Linked DNA regions of Homo sapiens: region 2 is linked to region 1. The links come from fine-mapping of genetic effects on gene expression. A gene starts in region 1. The other region holds a variant in brackets. All regions are shown on one strand. Distances are between the middles of the regions. Region 1 holds the start of UGP2 (UDP-glucose pyrophosphorylase 2). Region 2 overlaps UGP2 (UDP-glucose pyrophosphorylase 2).

Evidence for each region. PIP is the estimated chance that this variant, and not a neighbour inherited with it, causes the effect. A credible set is the group of variants that fine-mapping cannot tell apart.
Region 2: its variant is the best candidate, but not a certain one, in a credible set for the expression of UGP2 in aorta (GTEx, PIP 0.60).

Annotation. Positions count from the first base shown.
Region 1 is chr2:63,839,330-63,843,861 of GRCh38, reverse strand. UGP2 (UDP-glucose pyrophosphorylase 2) reads right to left here and starts at 1,966. Exons shown (of 10, transcript NM_006759.4): 1 at 1,658-1,966. The coding sequence starts at 1,676. It also overlaps a transcript of WDPCP not described here. RefSeq lists enhancers at 1,860-1,909, 2,780-2,959 and a silencer at 2,010-2,319.
Region 2 is chr2:63,883,618-63,887,617 of GRCh38, reverse strand. UGP2 (UDP-glucose pyrophosphorylase 2) reads right to left here. Exons shown (of 10, transcript NM_006759.4): 5 at 3,525-3,658; 6 at 1,732-2,029; 7 at 1,080-1,277; 8 at 1-216. Among named protein-coding and RNA genes, the nearest start is that of UGP2, 44 kb to the right of the region's middle. The variant G/A (reference allele first, on the strand shown) is at 2,324.

The DNA of each region.
Region 1 (4,532 bases):
CAACTAAGTGCAATCTGGTATCTTAGAGTGAATCATGGGAACTGTAATCTGAACAAAGCCTTTAGTTAACAGTAATGTACCTATGTTAATTTCTTAGTTTTGACAAATGTGCAACTTTTCTATAAATCCTGAAGTATTCCAAAATATAAAAAGTTTTTTTAAAAAAAGTGGATGACAAAGTAATGACAAACATACACAGCAACTCTTACCACTTGATTTTGAATCTTCTGAGGACAAGTTGGCATTACAGCAAAGGCTGTGAAATCAGTCAATGCTTGCCAATTCTGCAACCTATTCTAAAGCATAACTCTACATGGAACACCTTGGGTTTATTAATATTTCTAACTTTTAAAGAGAAGTAACTTGTCCACTTTTACCTAGCATATTCTTGCAAAATACCGCCTTTATGGTAACTGAATATTGTTATTACAAAACCAGTACGTTTCTAACAGTTCTGCCTTTCTATTCTTGAATAAGACATTTACTCAATCAGAACATAAGCATCTCTTACCACATATAAGGTATAACATGAATTTGAAAGTCTAATAACAAGTGACATTTCTGAGCTTAGCGCTAAAGGCAAGCATAGCGTTCGATCTGTTTCGATAATAACACAGGCAGTCGAATTCTCTTACTTTAATCTACTACACAAAATTTAAAGAAGAGTTAATAAAGCGATGTAGAACTCAGTAGGGCATTTTTATTCCCAGGGTCAAATGATGGCCATTACTGACACAACTTTTTTTTTCCAAAAGTACACCTACATTTATCAGGAAGCATAATAAGTGTTTGTGAACTTTACTAGCTGTGTGTTCATCAAGATGGCTGAAGCTTTCACACACTGGAGTCTACAAGGAAAGAGTTTACTTGCATACCAGAAGGCAAATCTCATGCTACAAACTGGTGTCAAAGGTTTATGCCAGCACCAATTTCAGTGAGTACACCGTACACACATGCATTCATATACACGTTACTGATAATCTCAGTTGAGGCATTCCCTAACCCTTTTTAAATACACATGTGGAATTTAGAGAGCAGTTTTCAAACTTCAAAGGAACCTTAATCATCTTTTCATAGTTCAAAAAAGGAAAAAATAAACACAGCAATGCAGCAAAGTCATTTCTCCAGCTGAAATGACCTCCAGCTTCTTCGGGCTACTCCCAGTTTCGCAATAAGTGAATCTGAGACGCAAACCACGTACACACAAACGAAGTAGAAGCGGAGAACACTAAAGCTTCCCCAACAGTCCCGGCAAAACCCACCCGGCTTTTCTCAGTCCTCCCGCTTCCCCAGCCCTTCCCGTCTGCGTGCACGCACAGGTACCTTGACACAGACCAGGAAAAGAGAACAAGGATTAATTAGCAGCCAAAAATCCTGTTTTATCACTTACAGCCACTATCCAGGAAAGCGACGGTACTACTAACCTGATTTCAGGGAGGCAAAACTAAACCCAGCAGGGTACAGGAGCATAAATTATACGCGTCTGGAACGTCAACCCAGCAGCTCAAGGCAGCTCAGATGACAATTCAACGAAAAGGGTTTCGCAAATGTTATCTCAAATGAACATTTCCACTTCCAAACCACCCACCAACCTCTCCACTGTCAGTACCCAAATTTGCCTGAAGCAACTCGGGATATAAGCAGCAGCATTTCTTACCTTGTACAAATCTCGACATTTTAGGGGCTTAGTAAAATACTCCGGCTTTTTTTTTTTTTTTCTAGAGGAGTCACGCTACAGGGCAGGTCTCTCTTCCTCTCCTGCTTTAACAACCGATGTATTCTTTCTCCTCCTATATTTAACTACTTAAGGGAGTATTTATTCAAAGCGATTAAAACTGGCTCAAGAAAAAAGAAAAGAAAGAAAGAAACTCCTTCCCCAATTCCAAAAGACGGAAACTTGGTGCGACTGAGTCGGTTTGGGAACTCCTGAGCTCCGGACACAAATGAGGGCCAGCTGGAGACTCCCGGAAAAGGTAAAACCACACGAACTTAAATTTCTTCAATGAAAGAGGCGGACCTACAGCGGCTATTTCACCGCCCCCAAGTCCCCACGCCCTCCAGGGCTGTACTGCAGGAGGCACTGGCAGGCCGCGCCCCTAGCTGCCCCCTCCCCGCGCCGCCGTCCAGGCCCCAAACGCCTCCCCCGAAAACCCCGGTTAACAGCGGCTCCCGCCCAAGCAGGGGTCGGGGAGGCGGGCGAGGCCGGCCAGCGGGGGCAGTGCAACCATTTTCACCAGCCATAAACATCCTGGGACTAGGAGGCGCTACCAATTCCACGCTCTGGCTGGCCGACCGGTCGGGGCCTCAGCTCCCCGCCTTCCCGCCTCGAGCAGTGAAACCCGGCCGCAGCTTTTTCTCGGTAGGGGCCGAAGGCTACGCTGCCCCTCCCCCGCAGCGGACACTAAGGGGTCACCGGCTAGAGGCAGACCCGTGCACCGGCGCGGGAGTCCCAAGGGAGGGCACCGACCCTTCCCGTACATATTCTCGCCCCGCCTGCCCTGCGCTCCTCAGAAGCCCAAATTCCGCCTCCGAGACCACACAGCGGGCCAGCGAGAGCGGGAAACACACTCATCCAGGGGGTCGCCGGAAGCCCAACCCCGCCCCTCCTCAAGCCGCCAGCGAGACCCACCTTCCTCTTCCTTTAGCAGCTGGGAAATTGGGGGCGTTTATGGCGCCCCGGGAAGAAGGCTCGCAGGCTGAAAGTCACCTCTGAGGCGCCCTTCTCTCTCTCTCTCTTCCCTCACACATGCACACCTTGAGCCCCTCCCTAACGGTCGCAGCCCAGCTGCTAACCCCCCCTTGTCCACCCGTCAGCCGGCTCCCGACACCCACAGCCCCTACTTTCTCCTAAACACCTCCCCTCCCCCTCCATTCGGAGCAGCCCCTTCAATGCGGAAATGTCCCTGCCGCACGGACCGACAGGCGCAGCCGCCAGTCAGGAGCCGAGGCGGACGCAGGCTCTGGCCAATGAGACGTGTGGAGGTGGCAAGGGGCGGGGCGTTGCGGCACTTGAGAGCCCGTCGGAGTTGGGCACTGAGCAGTACGCGGGGATACCGCGCGTGGGAGCAGCACTTACGGCGGCGTTGCGGCCAGGGAAGCCTCGCCAGTATATCTCAGTGAGGGAGAGCACCTGAGCACGACTGGTTATTTTTCCAATCAGTAAAAATATTCCCGCTGACTAGGGACTAAAGAAAGCCCTGCGGATAGAGCCGGAGCTCCCCACCGCAGCTGCCCCGAGGGAGCCCAGACGCTTCTCAGGGGACGCTTGCTCCCCTCATCACATCTGGTTGGGGGAGGGTGAGGATGCGTTAGGGAGTAGGCATTGGCCTGTGTGGGCCAGCTAACAAAAGGAGGGTTTAGGCATTGAAGAAAGTGACAAGTGAAGGCTCCCTCACCGGAACCACCACCATCCCCATTGCCCCGGTTCCTAATCCTGTAGAGCTGCTGTGATAGGCGTTTACTTTTCTCTTCAACGTGGAACTGGCCTAAGTTACTCCTCAAGAGATGCTTTTCTTTTGGTAGATTCTTGAAGTCCTCAAGGAAAGAGGATGTTACACGGAACTTGACACTAGCCTGGGGACTGTTACAGGGCCAGCCCACGGCTTGTCAAATCACACCTGGTACCGTCAACCCCACCTGCATCTAAGACTCAGTGTGCCTGGCAGCGAGTGCATTTCAGACTTTGCATTTCCACTTTAAGACTCAAATAGCCCGCACCAGGGCAGATGATTTGCCAGCGCCTTCTCTTAAGTGCCTTCAATAAACAAGTACGGTAATTACAGAAGAGTTTGAGGCTTTGGGCAGCACTAATCAACCAAGGTAAAGTGAGAATTTTTTAATGACTCATTGTCTAAACAAAGGAACTTTGATTTTTTGGTTCTACGTCTTTATATGGAAATGTTATTAGAACAAACAACACAGAAAAGGCTAGTGAAAAATTGTTATACTAGAGAATGACAACCATTGGTACTGTGTTTCTTACATGAAATCCAAAAAGATTACACTCAAAAACCTCTCGGCCGTAAAACGAATTTTCCCCAGACAAAACAAGTGTCTAAAATCCAGATGTCTACAGTTTAATAACAGCATTTGGAGACTGAAGATCTTAACAAAATCTCTACATCCTTTGTATACAGTACAAAAATTGTTCCAGCACTGAAAAAGCAGTCTTTACCAATGAGCATTAGTACCAAAATAAAATACTACCGAAAGATTTGGGCCACGTAGGGTTACTTAGCCTGCAAAAGATGAAGGACAATGAAGAGATTTATTTGTTGTTGTTGTTTTGTTTTTGTTTTTGTTTTGAGACGGAGTCTTGCTCTGTCGCCCAGGCTGGAGTGCAATGGCACAGTCTAGGCTCACTGCAACCTCCGCCTCCCGGGTTCAAGCGATTCTCCTGCCTTAGCCTCTCGAGTAGCTGGGGCCGCAGGCTCGTGCCACCGCACCTGGCTAATGTTTGTATTTTTAGTAGAGGCGGGGTTTCGCCATGTTGGCCAGGCTGGTCTCAAACCCCTGACCTTGTGATCCGCCTG
Region 2 (4,000 bases), 44 kb before region 1:
CAAGGGCACTGTAGGAAATTCCCGCTTTTCACTCATTGTCAGAGATCCTGCATTAAGACTATAGAGGTTTGACATCACCAGCAAGAGATCTGATGTGGTTTTGACAGGCAGAAAACGGCTCCTTGGCACATTAATACCTAGAGAATTCTCAAAACTTTTGATGGCAGCCCCTACTGCAGTTTCTAATTGAATGACATTCAGGCCTCCATCCAAAGTCTGTAAGAAATTAGGGGTGGGGAATAGAAAACAGAGGTTTTAGGCACCTACAACTTAGTTCCATGTAGGTTAGTTAATATTTGGGAAGTGATTTCAGAGATCCATTGATGGAAAAAAAAAAATTTTTTTTTTTTTTTGAGAAGGAGTCTTGATCTGTCACCCAGGCTGGAGTGCAGTGGCGCAATCTCGGCTCACTGTAGCCTCTGCCCTCCTGGGTTCAAGCAATTCTTATGCCTCAGCTTCCCGAGTAGCTGGAATTATAGGCATGTGCCACCTACCCAGCTAGTTTTTTGTATTTTTAGTAGAGATGGGGTTTCACTATGTTGGCCAGGTTGGTCCTGGCCTCAAGTGATCTGCCGGCCTCGGCCTCCCAAAATGCTGGGATTACAGGTATAAGCCACTGAGCCTGGCCAGAAAAATAATTTTGAGAACTGACATTTATCAAGCACCTATCATATGCCAAACTCTTAAACATGTAATCTTTTTTCAGTCTTAAAACTCTTCTGTTCAGTAATATCATTTCATGATAAACCATAGGTTCAGAAAACTCATGCAAAGTACCGATGGCCAAATGACCTATGAGTGTCAGAGCAACAACTAAGACTGAAGTAGGTTCTCTACTTTTGAAGCCCAGTGTTTTTGCCACTACCACAACCCAGGGTCAAATATAGGGCACCATAACTTGGCACACTAGAGGGGTGACAGCAGATTCTGGAAGACAGGGCTAGGAACTAGAGTCTGAAAAGGCAAAAGGGAGTGACCAATGGAATAGATGGGACAGAGGGAGTGGGCGATGGGGTCTGTGTGTAGCCTACTATGACCTTAGGAACCAGGAAGCTCAATGGGCCACAACCTTGGCTTACCTTTGCATTCACAATGATTTCCATGTCAATGGCATTTTGCTCCTGCAGTCTTTTAACTGCTGCAAGAGAAATCCATAGGTTGTTTGTATTAAATATTTTGAACTTTGATACAGACTTGAACTCGTCTACATGTGCTTTTGGCACTTGAGCAATTTCCACCAGTCTCAGTTTGCCTTCATATTGAGTGAGTGTCCCGCCCTAGAAAGGCAGAAAATAGTGAGTGCCTCCACATCAGTCTCAAGTGCATTTTTTTGTAAATACAAAGATAGTGATTATACAAAAAATATATAAATACATTATGTAGAAACAGAGTAAATTTTCATAAAAGGGACAATGAAATAACATTTAAATGCCAAACTAGAAGAGTATTAAAGGTTTGGACAACTTTACTGAAAGATTTCACATGTTTCAGATTTTTGCCATAAATATGTATGAAATTATTTTAGTTAAAATTACTGATGTAGCTTATCCAAAAAAATAGAGATGATTTTGATACTATTTATTATGGATTTATGATACATACTATTATGTCAAACAGAACATATTAAATGTGTTGTTTAACATAGAAACTTTCAAATAAAAAAGTCTTTAACTTCATAACTTACGAAATGTGAAAACATGAAGCCCTAAACTGCTTCCTCTCGGTATTTACCTTTACATCTGCACGTGTTTTATTTGTGACTTCCATGACAAATTCACAGCGTTTTCCATTGGGTGGGTTCATTAGATGATTAAGAATATACAGATCCACTGTGGCACCCAGATTATCTATGTTAGACACAAAAATATACTCTTTGCCTTCTCCTATAAAGGTATCAAGCAATCCAGAGTTGTAGAAACTGGCGTAAATATCACCATGACCTGGAGGGTACCAAGCTTCTGTATTTTCCCCTGAGTAAGACACGTCCTTTGCTACAGGAAGTAAAGATTCTTTATTAATCCTCGGGTACCTTTAAAAAAAAAAAAGTTCTTTTTCAATATTGACCCTGTAGAGCATTTCAGGCCTTTAAATAAAATAATACATTAAAGTTAAATAAAATTTCACTTCTTTTCAGAGTCTATCAATAAGTAATTTAATTATAGGTGAATCCATTTAAGAAAATCTCTCAGTATCTGTGTTGTCCAAAATCTGTTTTCCAGATGGTGATAGCTGCTGCAAAAACATGTCTCTATGGTCATACAGATGGGAGGACCCATCATATTTTTAAGATATTCATGTTTTATGACTCTCCAAAAGAAGGGAT[G/A]TATCAAGTAAATTTTCTCAAACTTATGTAGTTGTGAGATTGTTCTTTTCCCTGAAAACCTATCTGGGAAATACTGCCCATTCTTACAAATGGATATATTCAGGGGTGGATCTCTTTCTTTCCCAGAAAATAAGCACCAGGTTAGCATTCCAAGATGTCTGCTTCCCACCACTAGTAAGAAAGGTAAAGCTGGTGATGGGGCAAGAGGAAAACGGGAGCTAGCACCGCAACAGACTAAAGACTAGAAAATAAAGGCAAAACATCTGCAAAGTAAAAAAAAAAAAAAAAAAAAAAAAAAAAAGTAACCATGGGAAATAGATCTTAAAAACAACCAAACAAACTAATGACACAACTTTAGAAATGTCCTTCTTTTTTATTTTTATTTTTATTTTATTTTTGAGATAGGGTCTTGCTCTGTTGCCTAGGCTGGAGTACAGTAGCACAAACAGCCTCGACCTCCTGGGCTCAAGTGATACTCCCACCTCAGCCTCCCAAGTAGCTGGGCTACAAGGGCACACCACCAATGCTAATTTTTAAATTTTTTTTGTAGAGACGACGTCTCATTATGTTGCCCAGGCTGGTCTCAAACTCCTAGGCTCAAGCAATCCTCCTGCCTTGGCTTTCCAAAGTGTTGGAATTACAGGTATAAGCCACCACACCCAGCCTCAAAACATCCCTTCTGTACAAGTTCATGTGGACTGATGTCCATCCCTTAAATGGAAGTCTTATTTCTCCAGTTTCCTGGCCTTCAATCAGAATTCATCATCTGAATTTACTTTTTACTCACTATTCCCCAAAGATTTCCTCCAGAATTTATTAAATTACCCCAAGCCCATAAAAGGTGTTGAAGAAATTCCTTTCCATAGGAAAGGTTATCAATAATGTAGGAATATAAAAAGATTTTCACAGACCCACCTGGAGACCAAATATGCTCTCAGAAAGCAAAGGCTTAAACTATCCCCAAATATTCTGGACATGGAACAGAGTCTCAAGCAGACTGAATTTTAAGAACTGGAAATTAGAGAACCAGAGTGATTATAACAATCACATATCAACAAATGCTCAGCTTTTATGGGCATCAAACACTTGTGAACATCAATATTTGGTACCTGTACATCTTGAAACTGCTCTGTTATAAACAAGATAAAGAAGTCCTTTCCCAGGAGTAACATACCCAGAGTTAATTTTTTACTCATTGTACCTGCTTTGATTGAAAGTGTAGATTTTCACACGACAATGATTGTACTTCTGTAGTATTTTTTTGGTATCTTCATCCGTGTTAAAAGAGTTCATTAAAACAAGAGGAACATCTGTATTGTAGGTTTTATTCAAATGCTAGGGAGGAAAATGACAATTAGATTACCCAGACTCACTTTTCTTTTGCTCAAATATGCAAAATTAGTTCTTAATGGTTAAATCATAAAATATCTAAAACATCATCTGTACGTAGCCAAATATACAGATTTGACAAAAAACTGCTCAGCACGAGCCAGACATTTTGCTAAGCAATTCACCATGCACTTGCTCATTAAATCACTACCCTCTGAGATAGAAACTACTGTCTGCATTTTACGGATGTCTAAACTAAGGCCCAGATAGGTGGTGGGTCTGGCAATGGCAGAGGCAGGACCCCCACCTCCCCACCCTAGGCAGTTTGAGTCTGGAGCTTGTGTACAG